Linked DNA regions of Homo sapiens: region 1 is linked to region 2. The links come from fine-mapping of genetic effects on gene expression. A gene starts in region 2. The other region holds a variant in brackets. All regions are shown on one strand. Distances are between the middles of the regions.

Evidence for each region. PIP is the estimated chance that this variant, and not a neighbour inherited with it, causes the effect. A credible set is the group of variants that fine-mapping cannot tell apart.
Region 1: its variant is the best candidate, but not a certain one, in a credible set for the expression of RDH12 in prefrontal cortex (ROSMAP, PIP 0.70).

The regions. Positions count from the first base shown.
Region 1 is chr14:67,720,664-67,725,060 of GRCh38, reverse strand. It overlaps RDH12 (retinol dehydrogenase 12), which reads right to left. Exons shown (of 9, transcript NM_152443.3): 2 at 4,159-4,213; 3 at 2,351-2,637; 4 at 470-588. The coding sequence starts at 2,418. It also overlaps a transcript of GPHN not described here. Among named protein-coding and RNA genes, the nearest start is that of RDH12, 21 kb to the right of the region's middle. The variant T/A (reference allele first, on the strand shown) is at 1,844.
Region 2 is chr14:67,699,604-67,704,000 of GRCh38, reverse strand. It overlaps RDH12 (retinol dehydrogenase 12), which reads right to left and starts at 2,115. Exons shown (of 9, transcript NM_152443.3): 1 at 2,066-2,115. It also overlaps a transcript of GPHN not described here.

The DNA of each region.
Region 1 (4,397 bases), 21 kb before region 2:
CTAGGCTATAAAGGAGGTATAGTAAGTGAGCTTGGGACTGGGGGACAGAGCATTCATTCTCCCAGCCATCCTTCAACGGTAGAGTGAACATATTGCCACTTCGGGCTTTTCACAGTAGTACTGTTCAGTCTTCTTGCTGTCAGTTTAATCCCAGGCTGGGAACCTGGTTCCCAGGTTTTACATTCTGATATTTAATGTCACTTAGTATCTCCTTTTAGAATAACTGACTTGGCTATACACAGACATCGTTTTCCTTATTTTATTTAATAGAGAGGGAATAGGAAAGAAGCAGTTTATTGGAGGCCACAGTGTAAGTTGGTGTCACAGTTGGACTTGAATCCCAGGTTCCTTGAATTTCTAGTCAGAGCCCCCAAGCCTAGGAGGAAACACAAAGCAATATGGACAGAGGCCCCAGTGGGAAGAAGGGTGGGAGGCATGGCCCTTTGGAGACTAAAGGGGAAACACTTACCTCGGCTAGCGAGCTCTCTGGCCGTCTCCTTGCCAATGCCCGTGTTGGCGCCAGTGATCACCACTACCTTGCCAGGAAGCTGCACATTTGTTCTACACACTCCACCAGCAAAGAACTTCCTATCGGCAAGGGAAACAAGAGCATCACGTACCATCCTTCACGAGCTCACACTAAGATACGTTAAAAAAAAAAAAAAAAACTCTATCCAGCCTCAAAGAAGGGTATCTTTAAGTTGCAGTCAGGAGACTCATAAAAGCTAACCTTCATAGGACAACATTTTTCCATGGGGCAAGGTAGTCGCCTGTTTATCGGTGCAGGTGGGAAGATCACTTGCCCAGAAGCCACAAATAATCATATTAGCAAACAGAGTAAATGCTGGAGTCAGGGCCAATGGAGACTTTCCTTGTTAGATAATAAATACATCTAGCTCTTATCTCTAGAGGTTCCAGAGGAAAGCTTTCCCCTCTAACCTACATTCAAAACATATGCATGATAAACATTAGCGGAGTCAATATTCAGTAACCATCATCATGAGTAACTGATGAACAGCACTCTGTGGGGGGTGGCACACACAGGTACTGCTCTTAGCACTCTGGGGGATGGCATACACAGGTACTGATCTTAGGCTGCCTCTCCAGTTTTAGGGAGTGGGTCATTTCCGAGGCTTTCAGCCATTGTATTAGAGATTTCATTCTGGCCGATGGCAAACAGAGAGAAAACCTCCTTTGTTCAGACCTCTGTGCAGAGAGCACTCTTTTACATGAAGTTGACTTCACAGGTCCTAAAACAGAATACGGAGGGGCAGAACTAACATTTCCTGCACATCATCTGACTGCCAATTACTAGTCTAGGCACTTTCCATATGTAATTTATTTTAATCCTCTCAACTTCTCCAGTATTATTTCCACATTACAGTAGAGAAAACTGAGGCTCAGGGAGGTTCATGTCACATAGTGGTGGCAGAAGTGGGACTTGAACCCAGATCTCTATGGAGAACCTAGAATAACACTGTCCTTGGTAGGTCCATTTAACCTCCTTTATCATAAGAAATTTTTTAGGCTGAGCCCAGTGGCTCATGCCTGTAATCCCAACATCTTGGGAGGCCAACGTGGGATGGTCGCTTAAGCCCAGGAGTTTGAGACCAGCCTGGGCAACATAGTGAGACCCCCATCTCCACAAAAAATTTAAAAAGTAGCTGGGTGTAGTGGCACCTGCCTATATTCCCAACTACTTGGGAGGCTGAGGCAGGAGGGTTGCTTGAGCCCAAGAGTTCAAGGCTGCAGTGACCTATGACTACACCAATGCACTCCACCCTGGGGTGACAGAGCAAAAATTAAAAAAGAGAAATTTAAAAATTCTCCACTCAGAACACAC[T/A]TTTATTTGACACCTCTAGAAATCCCACAGCAAAAAAGCCATCCCAAAACATTAATTGAGGGTAGTCTCAAAGGCAGAAGAGTTTGTTTCTTTCCCAAACTACCTGGTACTTAACAGCATGACAAGCCAGCAGGGCCACCCTGAATAGGGACAGAGTCTCCGAGTTCTTCAGAGACACCCAAAGGAATAAAATGAAAACGCAAGGACTCCCACCTAAGGTGTTTGTTGAGCTACTTGACAGAGTCATCCATGCAGCCTTCCGCTGGCAGTAGAACTCTCCCCAGAGCTCAGGTGGGGCCAGAACTCAGCCCCACCTCTGCCCGGCCGCAGATGCTTCCTTCTGGTTTTCCACCATGGTATCCACAACACCCCCTTCCTTCCTGCTTTTCCTGCCCTGACTTTCTCCTCTGTCAGCCTCCTTCCCTTTCTCTTCTTTCAGCAGCTGAGAACCGGCTTCCAGTGCAGGTCTTTGTAAACGATTGTTTGAGTTGCTGAATTAAGACAAACCTGATGGATGGAGCTACCATATACAGGAACGAGAAGAAGGAGGTGAGCAGTCCCAAGGTGACCAGCATCGTTCCAACTTCTGTAGCTGCTGTTGCTTTTGCTGCTGCTCCAGCTTCAACCCCAGCTCTGGCTCAGGTTCCTGGTCTGGCTCCAGCTCTTGGCTGCTTCTGCTGCTTCTCTGCTCCTCTCCGTCCTGGGTGCTGAGCAGCAGCCTGACTCTGAGCAGAGCCCAGAATCCTATTTAAATCCAAGAGCTGTCAGAGCACAGCCTGCTGGGAGATGTAGTCCTGGTGGGGAGGGGATGGAGTCAAGGTTTGAAGCTTACTTAGGTTTACTGGCAAAGAGAATGTGGGGAAACTAAAGCAAGTACCCCCTAAACCCCCCATCCTCAATTGTTTCTCTTCTCTAGGAAATGTGTTCTCCCAACCACTGCCACCTCTACTGCAAGATGGAATATATAGAATATTTCTAACTTTAGCCACAAACCCCATGATGCTTAAAATATGAGTGGATTAAAATAGGATGGGAAGGAAACTCCCAGAAGAATGGAGAGAGACGTCAGAAGAGCAGTTAACCTTAGGGAGGAGGGGGCAGTGACTGGGGAGGGAGATGACTGGAACTCCTGGAGGGCTGAGAGTGCTCTGCTCTTTCATCTGGGTGCTAGTACATGGGTGTGCTCACTTTATGAAAATCTGCTGAGTCGTATGCTTTCGACTTGTGCACTTTTCTGCATTTTATATTTTACTTCAATGAAGTTAACACACGCACATGCATATTACAAGGAAAGGTATGGTGTTTAAGTGCATGGACTCTAGCGCTGAATCTATTTAAAAGCTCCACGGCCCTGGGCAAGTTACTAAACCTCTCTGTTAACTCAGTTTTCTCACTTGTACAATGGGTATGATTATATATATAATATATGGTTTTATATATATATGTGTTATACATATATATATATATATATATATATATCCCCACTTGTTCTAAGTGTTCAATTATTACATTGGTGGAAAACGAAACTGGCATATGCTAAACAGTATATAAGAGTCAGCTGTTATGGTTAGCTGTTCTGATTCGTATCTCCCTTGCTATCTCACTTGCTTTACTCAAGGCCATGGTGTAGAAAAGGGAGAGATGATGAACGTGGGTGATGTTTCAGTTGAATGCTATTGAAGATGAGGAGAAATACAAGAAAATGCTGGTAAAGAGCCCAAGGTAGGGGGATCCCTTGAGGCCAGAAGTTCAAGACTGAGCTTAGGCAACTTAGTGAGACCCTGTCTCTACAAAAAATTATCTGGGTGTGGTGGTGCGTGCCTGTAATCCTAGCTACTCGGGAGGCTGAGTAGGGAGGATCACTTGAGCTCAGAGGTCAAGGTTGAAGTGAGCTAGGATCGTGCCTCTGGATGTGTGTGAGATGGGAGAAGGGTAAGTGGGATTCATTGCCCTTCCTCGCTCTGTGTTCCTCTCTTGGACAGAAGAATAGACAAGGAGCTGGGACAGGACCCCAGGAATAATTTCCCAGTTCTGTCCCTTCCTGTGAAGCCAGAGGAGCCTCCAGGAACACCCATGCATGAAAGACTTCTGTGGCAGGCAGGTGTTCATGTCCTCATTCATCAGTTCATCCTCAACACACATTTACTGAGTGTTTCTCTGCACCAGGAATTGTGCAACATACTAGGAAGACACAGTTTCTGCCCCTGGGGAAACCCATGGACCTGACCAACAGAACAAGGAGTGATCAGATCATTCCCAGCAGACACTTCTTGACTCAAATCTAAGATCCTTGCATTTAAGAAGATGGTACTCACCTTAGCTTGAGCTTGTCCAGGAAGCAGAGAGTCCTTAAGAACAGCATACAGTCCTCTGGAGAGAAGATATTAGAAGGACCATAAGGCATCTAGAATTATGAAAATACACAAACACTTTGCTAAAATAAAATGTTAAATATTATAATCCAAAGGCCACCATCATATCATTGATAAGTTGTACCAAAATGCTAAACCATACTACTAAGTACAGGTAGGTGAATAGGCAGACAAATCAATAG
Region 2 (4,397 bases):
TTCTCAAACATTAAGACATGCCAGGCCAAGCACAGTGGCTCACGCCTGTAATCCCAGCACTTTGGGATGCTGAGGTGGGAAGAACACTTGAGTCTAGGAGTTTGAGACCAGCCTGGGCAACATGGCAAAACCCCATCTCTACCCAAAAAATGCAAAAATTAGCCAGGCACGGTGGTATGCACCTGTAGTCCCAGCTATTAGGGAGGCTGAAGTTGGGGGATCACTTGAGACCAGGAGAGAGAGGTTGCAATGAGCTGTGATCATGCCACTGCACTCCAGCCTGGGCAACAGAGTGAAACTCTGTCTCGGAAAAATAAAAAAAGACATACTGGGTTTTCTGAGACTCCAGCTAGATACATATTATGGCCCATTGTTGTGCACATCTTAAAATAATAGACAGATTAGAACTCAAGTGGTCCACCCAGAACTACAGAGTTAACATGTAGGATCGTCTAAGTTCTCTGTCTACCTCTATATATTTTTTCTGCCTACTTTGAAACTACTGACTTTTCTACTTGTGTTGAGATAAAGCTCACTGTTTATAGTATTACTAACTTAAGAAGACTTAGAAATTTTGTTTTTCTTATACGATTCAGCCAGTTCAAGCTAAAATGTTAACATTAAAAACCTAACTCTAAACTCATTTGAAACTGAATAAAAGGATAAAAGATTTTTAAAATAAAACTGCCATCGAACTACCTTACCCAAAAATTTTGGCTCACAGCCTTCATTAGATTACCTATTGGGACAAATAAAATTTAGCCATGTGAACTAACAGGTCCCAATTTTTTCCAAAAATAATTTAGATCCAACTATCTTTTATAAACTGGTGAGTTTGTATTACTATCTCATGACTAAAATTCTAAAATGAAAACTATAAGGGCCAGATGAGGTGACTCATGCCAGCAGTCCCAGCACTTTGGGAGGCCAAGGTAGGAGGATCATTTGCGCCCAGGAGCTCAAGACCAGCCCTGGCAACATAGTGAGACTCTGACTCTACAAAAAAAAAACTTTTTTAAGTTAGCTGGGCATGGCGGCACGCACCTGTAGTCCCAGGTACTCAGGAGGCTGAGGTGGGAGAATCACTTGAGCCTGGGAGGTCCAGGCTGCAGTGAGCCATGGTCATACCACTGCTCTCTACCCTGGGCAACAGAGTGAGGCCCTGTTTCAAAAGACAAATCAAAAAATAAAGGTATAAGATCTCTATTTGTGCATATATATGTGTGTTTAGATGTGTTTACATATATACATGTAATATGTTATATGTTGTATCTACATGATACCCAATTGACTTATAGATAAATGAGCACTCATAAATTAGTAAGCCCAAAGGTTTTCCAAGTTCACATGACTTAAGTAATTCTTTAATAAATAAACTGGCTTTAAAATTATTAGTAAAATAAATATTAAAATGTCTTCAAAATTGTCAACATACATATTTGCCTAGATTTATGGTCAGATTTATACTTGTCTTATTAAATATTTTACAGGGTCAGGATTTGGCACAAAGGTAAAAAACTATGAACCCAGCCAAAACCAAAATAATCTTTGTGTGATTTTTTTTATAAGTAAGACTAATTTAATATTGTTGGTTTAAGAAATACAGCTAAACCTTCTGAGTTATCAACAAAATACCCATGTATTTAACTTTAAATTTCTTGCTTAGGTAAATATCTGACATTCACAGGCTATAAAAATGGTTAATAGAAAAAAACTTAAAAAACTGAGCACAGGCCAGGCATGGTGGCTCATGTGTGTAATCCTAGCACTTTGGGACCCTAAGGTGGGAGAATCACTTGAGCTCAGGAGTTTGAGACCAGCCTGGGCAACATAATGAGATCTCATCTCCATTTAAAAAATATATATATATTAAATTTTTAAAAAAGCTGGGCACAGTGGTTCATGACTGTTATCCTAATGCTTTAGGAGGCCAAGGCAGGTGGATCATTTGAGATCAGGAGTTCAAGACAAGCCTAAGCAACATAGTGAGACACTGTCTCTACAACACAGTGAGATACTGTCTCTACAAAAATTTTGAAAATTAGTCTGGCATGGTGGCACTTACCTGTAGTCCTGGCCACTCAGGAAGCTGAGAAGGGAGGATTGCTTGTGCCCAGGAGTTGAGGTTACGATGAGCTGATCATGCCACTGCATGATAATAATTTATTACATGGTAAATTATTTTCCTAAAGCAAAATGACAGGTTAATTATAAAAGAGAAAGGGTAGGGCAAAACAAAAGTTCAAACATGTCATAAATAGTCTACAGAAATCATAATAGGCCTGGCGTGGTGACTCATGCCTGTAATCCCAGCACTTTGGGAGGCTGAAGTGGGCGGATCACAAGGTCAGGAGTTCGAGACCAGCACAGCCAAAATGGTGAAACCTCATCTCTACTAAAAATACAAAAAGTAGCCAGGTATGGTGGCGCATGCCTGTAGTCCCAGCTACTCGGGAGGCTGAGGCGGGAGAATCACTTGAACCTGGAATGCGGAGTTTGCAGTGAGCCAAGATAGTGACACTGTACTCCAGCCTGGGCAACAGACTCCATCTCAAAAAAAAAAAAAAAAAAAAAAGAAATTATAATAAAGTTCTTTAAAATTTTTTTAAATGTATATGTGATTAAGTTGGCTATAATCAAAAAAAAGTTATAAGTGTTTCTAAAGATTGAGATTTTGGTCCTCTATGTTAAAATAACATTGTCTTAAAGTATAAATTTGCTCTTAGTGAATTACAAGAGCTTTTGATTTTAAATTCTACAATCTATTTCTTTTCTAAAACTTCTCAAATTTATATCTCAAAAAATTCTACTTGTGCTATACCTCGCTGCACATGATTCCCAAGTCATGAATCGTTGTTGTTCGTTCTTTATACCCTTAAAAAGATACATGTTTTTCTTGGTTGAAATGATAATCCTCTCCTTCAACCTTTTTGTCAACTTCTGTAATCTTTGACTTTTTTTTTTTTTTTTTTTTTTGAGATGAAATTTTGCTCTTGTCACCCAGGCTGGAGTGCAGTGGCAAGATCTCCGCTTACTGCAACCTCCGCCTCCCAGGTTCAAGTGATTCTCCTGCCTCAGCCTCCGAGTAGCTGGGATTAGAGGCATTCGCCGCCGTGCCCAGCTAATTTTTGTATTTTTAGTAGAGACAGAGTTTCATCATTCTAGCCAGCCTGGTCTTAAACTCCTGACCTCAGCTGATCCACCCGCCTCGGCCTCCCGAAGTGCTGGGATTGCAGGCATGAGTCACCATGCCCAGCCAACTTCTGTAATTTTTTTTTTTTTTTTTGAGATGGAGTCTTGCTGTGTCACCCAGGCTGGAGTGCAGTGCCGCGATCTAGGCTCACTGCAAGCTCCGCCTCCCAGGTTCACGCCATTCTCCTGCCTCAGCCTCCCGAGTAGCTGGGACTACAGGCGCCCGCCACCACGCCCGGCTAATTTTTTGTATTTTTAGTAGAGACGGGGTTTCATCGTGTTAGCCAGGATGGTCTCGATCTCCTGACCTCGTGATCTGCCCACCTCGGCCTCCCAAAGTGCTGGGATTACAGGCGTGAGCTACTGTGCCCGGCCTTCTGTAATCTTTTTCTCTGGTTCTAACTCTGGTGTGGCCTGATGCTAAAATGTTTATCTTAAAGCTCTGGAACAAAACCATTTTCCTCCAATATAACTTGATTCTGTAGTCTTGGCTTTTCTCGATATAGCTAAATTATTTCCTATAACCAGGGCACTTTTGATGCTGTTACTGAGACATATTTATTGTCCTGCTTAAGATACAAGTTTCCTTGTTTACTTTCCTCAAAAATATAGTGTACACTCATAACTCTGGACACACTCTTCCTGTATTTTAATTAAATCCAAGTATCCTTTTTTTTTTTCTCGCTCTGTCTCCAGGCTGCAGTACAGTGGCATCATCTCAGCTCACTGCAACCTCCGCCTCCCAGGTTCAAGCGATTCTCCTGCCTCCATCTCCCAAGGAGCTGGGACTACAGGTGCGCACCACCACGCCCAGCTGATTTTTGTATTTTTAGTAGAGACGGGGTTTCACCATGTTGGCCAGGATGGTCTCGATGTCTTGACCTCATGATCCGCCCACCTCGGCCTCCCAAAGTGCTGGAAGTACAGGCGTGAGCCACCGCGCCCAGCCTAAATCCAAGTATTCTTTTCATTGAGTTTGTCTTCCAGGTTATCTAAATAGAGTTCCAATAAAGAAAAACAATCATATTACAAAAGGTTTTTCTTTACTTTTTAGTAACTATCCTAAAATTTTTCTTAATGTTTTATCAAGGTAATTCCTGTGACTTACTGTGTTTTGATCACTTTAAAAAAAAAAGCTTTAAAAAGGTGAAGATTTTTTACATCCACATAACTTTCTTTCTTTCTCTCTCTGTTTCTTTTTTTTT